2 separate regions of the Homo sapiens genome follow, and region 2 is linked to region 1. The links come from fine-mapping of genetic effects on gene expression. A gene starts in region 1. The other region holds a variant in brackets. All regions are shown on one strand. Distances are between the middles of the regions.

Region 1 (4,398 bases):
TGAAAGAGTACACTCAACCTGTCTGAACTTCAAGATTATAATTTTTATCTAGTACTGTACTTATCTCTGCCACCTACTCAAATTACCCTTAAGGAAACCAAGGATACCTGAAACGCCAAAATCAAATACTTATTTTTCAAGTCTTAACCTTATCTGTCCTGGGGATGAAGGAACTGGTGCAGTGTTCACTAGAATGATAGTAATTATGGAGCTCTTAAGGAGCTCTACTCTGTGCCAGGCACTGTACTAAGCATTCAAAAATGTTCATTTAATCTTCACAACATCCCTGAGAAGTACTACCCCCTTTTAATAGATTAAAATTGGGGCTCAAAATTACCCAGAGGCCAAGTAGTTAGTGAAGCCCATATGATTCCAATGTTTGCAGTCTCTTCCCAATTCTGTGGCATTTTCTCCATCTCTTTCACTATTTCATCAACGACGCTTATAATCAATTCTCTTATTTCACATGCTCTCCTTGGCAATTTCATTTCCTCCCAAAGCTTTAACTACATTCTATATTAGTGCTTCCCAACTTTTTAAATCTTTCTGTAAATATAAACATTTTGTGCTCTCTGTAGCTTATATTTTGAAAATAAGTTTTTTCCCATAGAAATTACAATATTGAATATGTTTGTTCAAACTACACTTCCTTCCACCACTCAAGATCTGTTAACCTCTAATGAATTGCCCCATGATTGACATCAATAGACCTTGATGCAGAAATATTTTATTGGAGAGATATCAAATCAATCTCTATTTCCTCTTCCCATGTCCACTTCTGCTAGACATTTCTCTCGAGTCATAAACATCTTTAACTGTCTAATAAGCATAGTTCCATGACTGTCGCCCCAGGCCCTTCAACATAAACCTGTCTAAAACCAAACTCTCATTTCCCTTAGCAAACCTGTTCTCTGCGTTCTCCAGCTAATCTTGTCACAACCCACCCTTGTCTATTCTTTAAGGTACCTACCTGCAAAACCGTAACGCTGATACTCTGACTTCCTTGAGCTACCAGGTAAAAAAATCAACCACTACAGGAGTGCCTATTATGGCCTGGAGTAGAGGAATGCAAAATAGTTCAAAATATCCTCTTCCTCCTGAAGAAACAGATTTTTTTTTTTTTTTGGAGAGGCATGTTCCAACTTATAAAATTAAAATATATTCACAAGCATTTTAATTTGATCTTTAATCTCTGTTTTACAGGAAAAAAAAATGAGATGTTACTTTCCACTCCTTCATTGTTGAAATAAACTTACACTCAACTAAAAGAAAACAGGTCTGAATACAATAAAAGTCAACAGGACAGCGCAAATAGCCAACTACCCAAGGACACAAAGTGACCTGGAGGCGTTCTGCGGTGGCGCTGCCGTCAAGGCCGGGGCCGCCTGGCCAGACCCTCCCTCAGACGCCCCCCGGGGCCGCCCTCACTCCCGCACGTCCCTCTGCAGCTGTCCTCAGCCGGTGGGGTCGGCAGTGACCGCGGGAAAACCCCGCTTGCTGTGCGACCCAGGGCGCGCTGAGCAGGGGCTGCGGCTGCCGCCGCTGTCCGGCTCCGGTTCCGGCCCCGGCCCCGGGCCCGGCCAGAGCTGAGTCCGGACTCAGCCAAAGCCCCTCGCCTTCAGCTTCCCAGACGTCCGACCAGTGGAAAATTAGCATACCTGGGGCAGAAGGCAGCTGCAGGGCCGGCAGTCCTGGCAAACCTAGAAGGCGGGAATAACCCTGGTGACGGGCGGGGCCGGGCTCCGGCGCTAACTGCATCCACTAGGTTTGGTCAACACAGAGCCGCGCCAACTCTCTGAGGCTGCGCCAAGACCTGAAGCGGCGGACCGAGAGCCCGGGTCTGAGACTGAGAGAGCAACGGAATGGAGGCGGGGTAGAGGCGGAAACACAACCTGCAGGGCCAGAGCGAGGCGCGAGAAGGACGGCGGCGTGAGGGGGCGGGGCGCGCAGCGCGAGAAGGCAGGCACGAGGGGCGAGCGCGAGGCGGGGCACGGCGCGTGGCGTGAGACGGGGCGGGGCGCGCGTATCGGCGCCGCGGCCGCGTGACGCGTTTTCAAATCTTCAACCGCCGCAGCCCACTCGTTTGTGCTTTGCGCCTTCCTCCTCCGCGCCTTGGAGCCGGATCCGGCCCCGGAAACCCGACCTGCAGACGCGGTACCTCTACTGCGTAGAGGCCGTAGCTGGCGGAAGGAGAGAGGCGGCCGTCCTGTCAACAGGCCGGGGGAAGCCGTGCTTTCGCGGCTGCCCGGTGCGACACTTTCTCCGGACCCAGCATGTAGGTGCCGGGCGACTGCCATGAACTCCGGAGCCATGAGGATCCACAGTAAAGGACATTTCCAGGGTAAGAAGCCCCTCCTCCGCCTGCAGTCCCTTTAATCCTTTCCTCCCCTCGTGGTTCCACCATTGATTCTTCAGACTTCTCCCGCCGGGTCCTCAGCTTCTTTTCTTCTGACCGGCCTCTGGGGTCTGAAGGAAGGAGCCCCCGTTCAGTGTTTTGCCTAAGAAGGAACGGATCCTGACCCGGCCCCTCGAGCGCTCTGCCGTTTACAGCGGCGGTCCCAGATTGATTCCCGGTCGTGCCTTCGGTTGAAAACTAGCAAACAATGTGCAGATCCGGGACCTCGCCGGGACTGCGGCGCTGTCTGCTCCCGGGCTCTCGCATATGCTAAGCCTCCGCCCGGGCCCTTGGAGGCGACGGACTGCATCCTCAATTTAAAGTCAGACGCGCTCGTGGCTTTTCGCTTCAGGATTAGATTGAGTGATTGTGGGTGGATTTTTGGTCTTACCCTTGAAAGTTTATTTTCCTTTCCTCATAAGTTGGGGGAAAGCATTGTATTTCAAACACCCCATTGCTGGTTTCAACATTACAAACAGGGAAACAAAAGCAAATTTCCATTTTCAGTCACTTTATTTGGTGAAACATTCCAGCACCTAAGTTTTTTGTACAGGTGTTTGTGTGTGTGTAGTAACTACCAATTTAAGAACAGATTGCGTTTGAAAAATTAATTTTTAAAGCAGTTGCTTGGATCTCAGATCTGTTTCTAATGAAAATAATGAAAGGTTTAGTTCTTCGTAATGGACCGTTAAGTTCTTAATACGTAGACAAATTGTATGTGAAATGGACCGTTTAGTTGTTAATATGCAGACAAACTTTATATGAAACTAAAACTTGAGCAGTCTGAAACCCTTGAGGACTAGGTTATTCTGCGTAACAGAGGATTCTTTCATCGCTAAATGAAGTTTAAACACCAGTTTTGAATGTTCAGCAGAATGGCAGATGCTCAATAAATAGTTGAGTATTAAATATCCCCATGGAGTTTACATCCTAAAAAAAGAAAATCTTTCAAAAGAGTTTTATATAGTTCCGTGCCTCAGGAATAAACACACGAATATTTCTTGCTGAGTCAACTATTATTTTACAATATGCGGTCTGTGAAAGTATATAGGGCATTTTGCCTCTATCCTAAGTAGTACTACAAAGAAATACATTTCAATGCTAATAACTTAAACTGGTAGGGTTGTAAGGATTTTTATTCTGTAATATTGTATAATGAAATATTTTAAAAATAGTAAAAGTGTCTGTGTAAAACATCTGATTCTAAACATCTTTAATAGGTGGAATCCAAGTCAAAAATGAAAAAAACAGACCATCTCTGAAATCTCTGAAAACTGATAACAGGCCAGAAAAATCCAAATGTAAGCCACTTTGGGGAAAAGTATTTTACCTTGACTTACCTTCTGTCACCATATCTGAAAAACTTCAAAAGGACATTAAGGATCTGGGAGGGGTAAGTGAAAACCGTACACTGGCATAGAAGGAAAAATTTGTAACTAGTACTTTCTACTGTGTAATCATTTAAATTTTTCATTTTGGAAAACGCTTCTATTAGCACCAAGCTTAACATTTTTATCAGCTGTTTATCGTTAACAAAAAACCATTTGTTTTAACCTTTTGTGGACTGACAGACCTTTCAGGTTTCTCTGATTAGCAGTCTAGTGTAAAGTTCTTAGAGTGTAAGACTCCCCTGTCCTAGTGGAACTGCTCATTGACTGCTTACTGTAATGTTGGAATGTCCTCCAGATAACAGCAATTTCTTGATTATGAATCTTGGGGAGCTACATAAGTTTGTCTGGACTAGTGTAACAGTTAAGAATGTTACTACAGAACAGCCATGCAAACCACAGTTAAAATTGTTCCTGAGTGATACAGATGTTGTTTCAACAGAATGAATGTTATTAAAGGAAAAGAAATTTGCATTAAGAATCTGGAATACCTTCTTTCCTACCTTATACACTGATTAGATGATTGGGAAATTAGAAAACTCAGGCAAAATTCTAGGACCTTAATAGGATTAAGGTTGATATTGGCTGAATTTTGGCAAATGAGGTAATTAAGAT
Region 2 (4,398 bases), 32 kb after region 1:
CATTTTTTTATTGCCCATTTGTTCAAAGAGAATTGTTTGTAAGTAAATGTATGAACAAGATAAAAAAGAACATTCTGGTTGAAGGGGCAGGAAAAATTGTATTATTTCTCACAGTTAATCTGTGACATGCGGAACACAAAATGTAATTGGTGAGCTATTAACTTTTTCTCTAATTGTATATTATTTAGGTTTGTCTAATACAAACTGGAATTTCAGGGATATCAAGATGCTCCATGAAGAAAATAATTTTAGGTCAAATATGTTTGAAGCTTAAAAGTTACAACTTTGTCACCTTTGAAAGTATAAAGATACTAAGTTTCTAGCTCACTTTGATATTAAATATTCTTAAATGTAAATTTAAAATATATGTTTTTGCCATAGGTTTCTCAGTAAATACTTATTCTCCACATTGCTAAGTAAAATGAAGAGTAAAATGTGCATTAATGTAAATCAAAGCACAGAAGTTAAGAAATTGTTCAGAATAATGAAAGCAAAATTAGGGGCAGGCTCAAATCCCTTTACTATCAATTTCTTTCATTTACATGATTAAAGTAATTTTAAATGTCAAAATTCAGGATATTGGTTATCTGGGAGGGAGGCAGGGAATGTAGAGGAGAAGAGAGGTACACTAGGGTTTTCAGCTATATCTGAAAAGTTGTATTACTTTAAAAACAGCTCAAGTAAATTTGGCAAAATGTTAAGATGTTTGTATTTTTGTAAAATTTCCTAAGTTAAATAGGTTTCTTAAAGATTATATAATGTTTTTACTAATTTAATTTCTAACTACTCAGGAATTTGTTTTGATAGCAATTATTTTAATATTTTTCTTCTATTTTTCCTACAAAGAATAAAATACAGTGTTGGATCCCTTTCTCCTGTTTCTGCAAGTGTCCTGAAAAAGACTGAACAAAAGGAAAAAGTGGAATTGCAACATATTTCTCAGAAAGATTGCCAGGAAGATGATACAACAGTGAAGGAGCAGAATTTCCTGTATAAAGAGACCCAGGAAACTGAAAAAAAGCTCCTGTTTATTTCAGAGCCCATCCCCCACCCTTCAAATGAATTGAGAGGGCTTAATGAGAAAATGAGTAATAAATGTTCCATGTTAAGTACAGCTGAAGATGACATAAGACAGAATTTTACACAGCTACCTCTACATAAAAACAAACAGGAATGCATTCTTGACATTTCCGAACACACATTAAGTGAAAATGACTTAGAAGAACTAAGGGTAGATCACTATAAATGTAACATACAGGCATCTGTACATGTTTCTGATTTCAGTACAGATAATAGTGGATCTCAACCAAAACAGAAGTCAGATACTGTGCTTTTTCCAGCAAAGGATCTCAAGGAAAAGGACCTTCATTCAATATTTACTCATGATTCTGGTCTGATAACAATAAACAGTTCACAAGAGCACCTAACTGTTCAGGCAAAGGCTCCATTCCATACTCCTCCTGAGGAACCCAATGAATGTGACTTCAAGAATATGGATAGTTTACCTTCTGGTAAAATACATCGAAAAGTGAAAATAATATTAGGACGAAATAGAAAAGAAAATCTGGAACCAAATGCTGAATTTGATAAAAGAACTGAATTTATTACACAAGAAGAAAACAGAATTTGTAGTTCACCGGTACAGTCTTTACTAGACTTGTTTCAGACTAGTGAAGAGAAATCAGAATTTTTGGGTTTCACAAGCTACACAGAAAAGAGTGGTATATGCAATGTTTTAGATATTTGGGAAGAGGAAAATTCAGATAATCTGTTAACAGCGTTTTTCTCGTCCCCTTCAACTTCTACATTTACTGGCTTTTAGAATTTAAAAAATGCATACTTTTCAGAAGTGATAAGGATCATATTCTTGAAATTT[T/C]TATAAATATGTATGGAAATTCTTAGGATTTTTTTACCAGCTTTGTTTACAGACCCAAATGTAAATATTAAAAATAAATATTTGCAATTTTCTACAGAATTGAATACCTGTTAAAGAAAAATTACAGAATAAACTTGTGACTGGTCTTGTTTTACATTATATATATGTTCGTAATTGTTTCCTGAGAATTACAATGAATAATAATTTGCTTTGTCACTGAAAACCACCAGTGAAGTGCAATTTGGGGAATATCAAACTTAGCATTATACATTTGGATATTCTAGTTGTATTGTAAATTTTAAAAGATTATCAGGATAACATGACCTTGCCTTGAAAAACCTAAATTTCATACAGAAAGGAAAAATACATTTCTATGCTTGAATTCTGGAAATCATCAGAAATATTGACACTTGAGGGTCACTGGTGGACCATGCTAGTATTTTGGTGCTGAGTAATTAGATTATGTATAGGGGTAACTGGAAGCCATGAAGGAAGGACTTAACCAGGCTACCAAGTGGAATATAATTTATCTGCTATTTTTAATTACTTACCTTGTAAATAACTTTAATAATATTCAAAAGTTGACTCTCCTGTGGCTCATGCCACAGGATCCCAGCACTTTGGGAGGCCGAGGCAGGCTGATCACGAGGTCAGAAGATCAAGACCATCCTGGCCAACATGGTGAAACCTTGTCTACTAAAAATACAAAAAATTAGCTGGGCATGGCGGCATGCGCCTGTAGTCCCAGCTACTCCCTCCAGAGGCTGAGAATTGCTTGAACCTGGGAAGTGCAGGTTGCAGTGAGCCAAGATTGTGCCACTGTATTCCAGACTGGGTGACAGAGTGAGACTCCATCTCAAAAAAAAAAAAGTTGACTCTACCCCCTAATTTGGTAGGAGATGAAGGAGAAAAGGATGGCATTGAATTATAGATACAGTTTTGGGATATATACAAGGATTGCCTTGATCTGGCACTTACTGATACAAGCATTTGGAGAAGAGAAAATTCAAATATAAGAAATTTCAATTTGAATCTGTGGATATAAGGCATTTGCCTTTGAGTATGTTCTTGTAGGAGTAAGACTACCACCAGTGACATTCAATTGGTTCTATTGCATAGTACATGAATCTATTGTCACTAAAAATTAGGTTACTAATCTTAATTTTTTTGAAATATATGATTCTCAGTACAGGACTAATTCATATGCTTTTCCTGCATACATTATTTTGATCATTTGGATAACATCAATGAACACTGGCTTTTTAACACCTTTGTTTTTCATACCAGTACCTGAAGTAGGCTCAATAAAAGAGTCTTTACAGTGCATACACGCAAACCCTGTTTCCATTGTAAATTATTGTTCCATTTTCTATCACAAATACATGTATGTATGTGTAAACATACGTAAGGTTTCGTAGACAACCTTTGAAAAATCTAAATGGAACTTGGAAAATTATTTGCAGGTTTATTTCCCTTTAGTTATCAGTGTTCCCCAAATTTTCCAAATAACTGAAAGGTATGTAAAGTCACTGTATGATCCTTTGACTTTAAGAGTAACAGTGTCTGGCTGGGCGCGGTGGCTCACGCCTGTAATCCCAGCACTTTGAGAGGCCAAGGCGGGCGGATCACGAGGTCAGGAGATCGAGACCATCCTGGCCAACATGATGAAACCCTGTCTCTACTAAACTACAAAAAATTCGCTGGGCATGGTGGTGCGCTCCTGTAATCCCAGCTACTTGGGAGGCTGAGGCAGGAGAATCGCTTGAACCCCGGAGGCAGAAATTGCAGCGAGCCGAGATTGTGCCATTGCACTCCAGCCTGGTGACAGAGCGAGACTCCGTCTCAAAAAAAAAAAAAAAAAAAGTGTCTTCAATTTACAGTGGTACTCTGGGCATCATTTTACATTAAGTTATACTTACTAAGGAGAAAAAGTCTGAACCCTTCAGTAAAAGTTGTTAAACTATTTGACACTGGATATTGGACTTTTGGAACACCACATGGTCTTCATAATGAGTATTCAGCTTTTTTCAAGTGCTTAAATTTCAGTTTACTTGGAATAATTTCAGTTTACTTGGGCCACCACATACAGTTTGGATTGTGCTGTGCAGCTATGCAGATGGGCACCCAGCCAGTGAGATGAAGGCAGGTTATTTGCAGCAAGTAGTGTGTCCTGGCAATGAGGTGCATCTACCTAGAGGTAGGGGTAGTTTTTCCTATTTTTTACCAAGGCACAGCCAAGGTAGTGTTTACCCAGAAGGTTCTTTGCCTTTTTGTTTTTGTTTGTTGTGTGTGTGGTTTTTCTTTTTTTTTCTTTTTTTTTTTTTTTATTGTTTTTGTTGTTGTTGTTTTGATACTAGGTCTCTCTTGTCCAGGCCTGGTTACCATGGTGCAGTCAGCTCACTGTGGCCTCAGACTCCTGGGCTTAGCTGGGCACTGGCTCATACCTGTAATCCCAGTACTTTGGGAAGCTGAGATAGGAGGATCACTTGTGATCAGGAGTTCAAGGTCAGCCTGGGCAGCAT

Alleles and levels. Alleles are on the strand shown, and positions count from the first base shown. SD is a standard deviation of normalised expression in the study named.
As copies of T replace C in region 2, the expression in testis of the gene that starts at base 2,056 in region 1 goes down (small effect, 0.25 SD a copy in GTEx).

The links. PIP is the estimated chance that this variant, and not a neighbour inherited with it, causes the effect.
Region 2: its variant is the best candidate, but not a certain one, in a credible set for the expression of DBF4 in testis (GTEx, PIP 0.72).

The regions. Positions count from the first base shown.
Region 1 is chr7:87,874,438-87,878,835 of GRCh38, forward strand. It overlaps DBF4 (DBF4-CDC7 kinase regulatory subunit), which reads left to right and starts at 2,056. Exons shown (of 12, transcript NM_006716.4): 1 at 2,056-2,341; 2 at 3,616-3,788. The coding sequence starts at 2,296. It overlaps SLC25A40 (solute carrier family 25 member 40), which reads right to left and starts at 1,923. Exons shown (of 12, transcript NM_018843.4): 1 at 1,659-1,923. RefSeq lists silencers at 1,316-1,765, 1,896-2,155 and enhancers at 1,519-2,028, 2,216-2,335.
Region 2 is chr7:87,906,342-87,910,739 of GRCh38, forward strand. DBF4 (DBF4-CDC7 kinase regulatory subunit) reads left to right here. Exons shown (of 12, transcript NM_006716.4): 12 at 847-3,212. The coding sequence ends at 1,822. Among named protein-coding and RNA genes, the nearest start is that of ADAM22, 26 kb to the right of the region's middle. The variant T/C (reference allele first, on the strand shown) is at 1,877.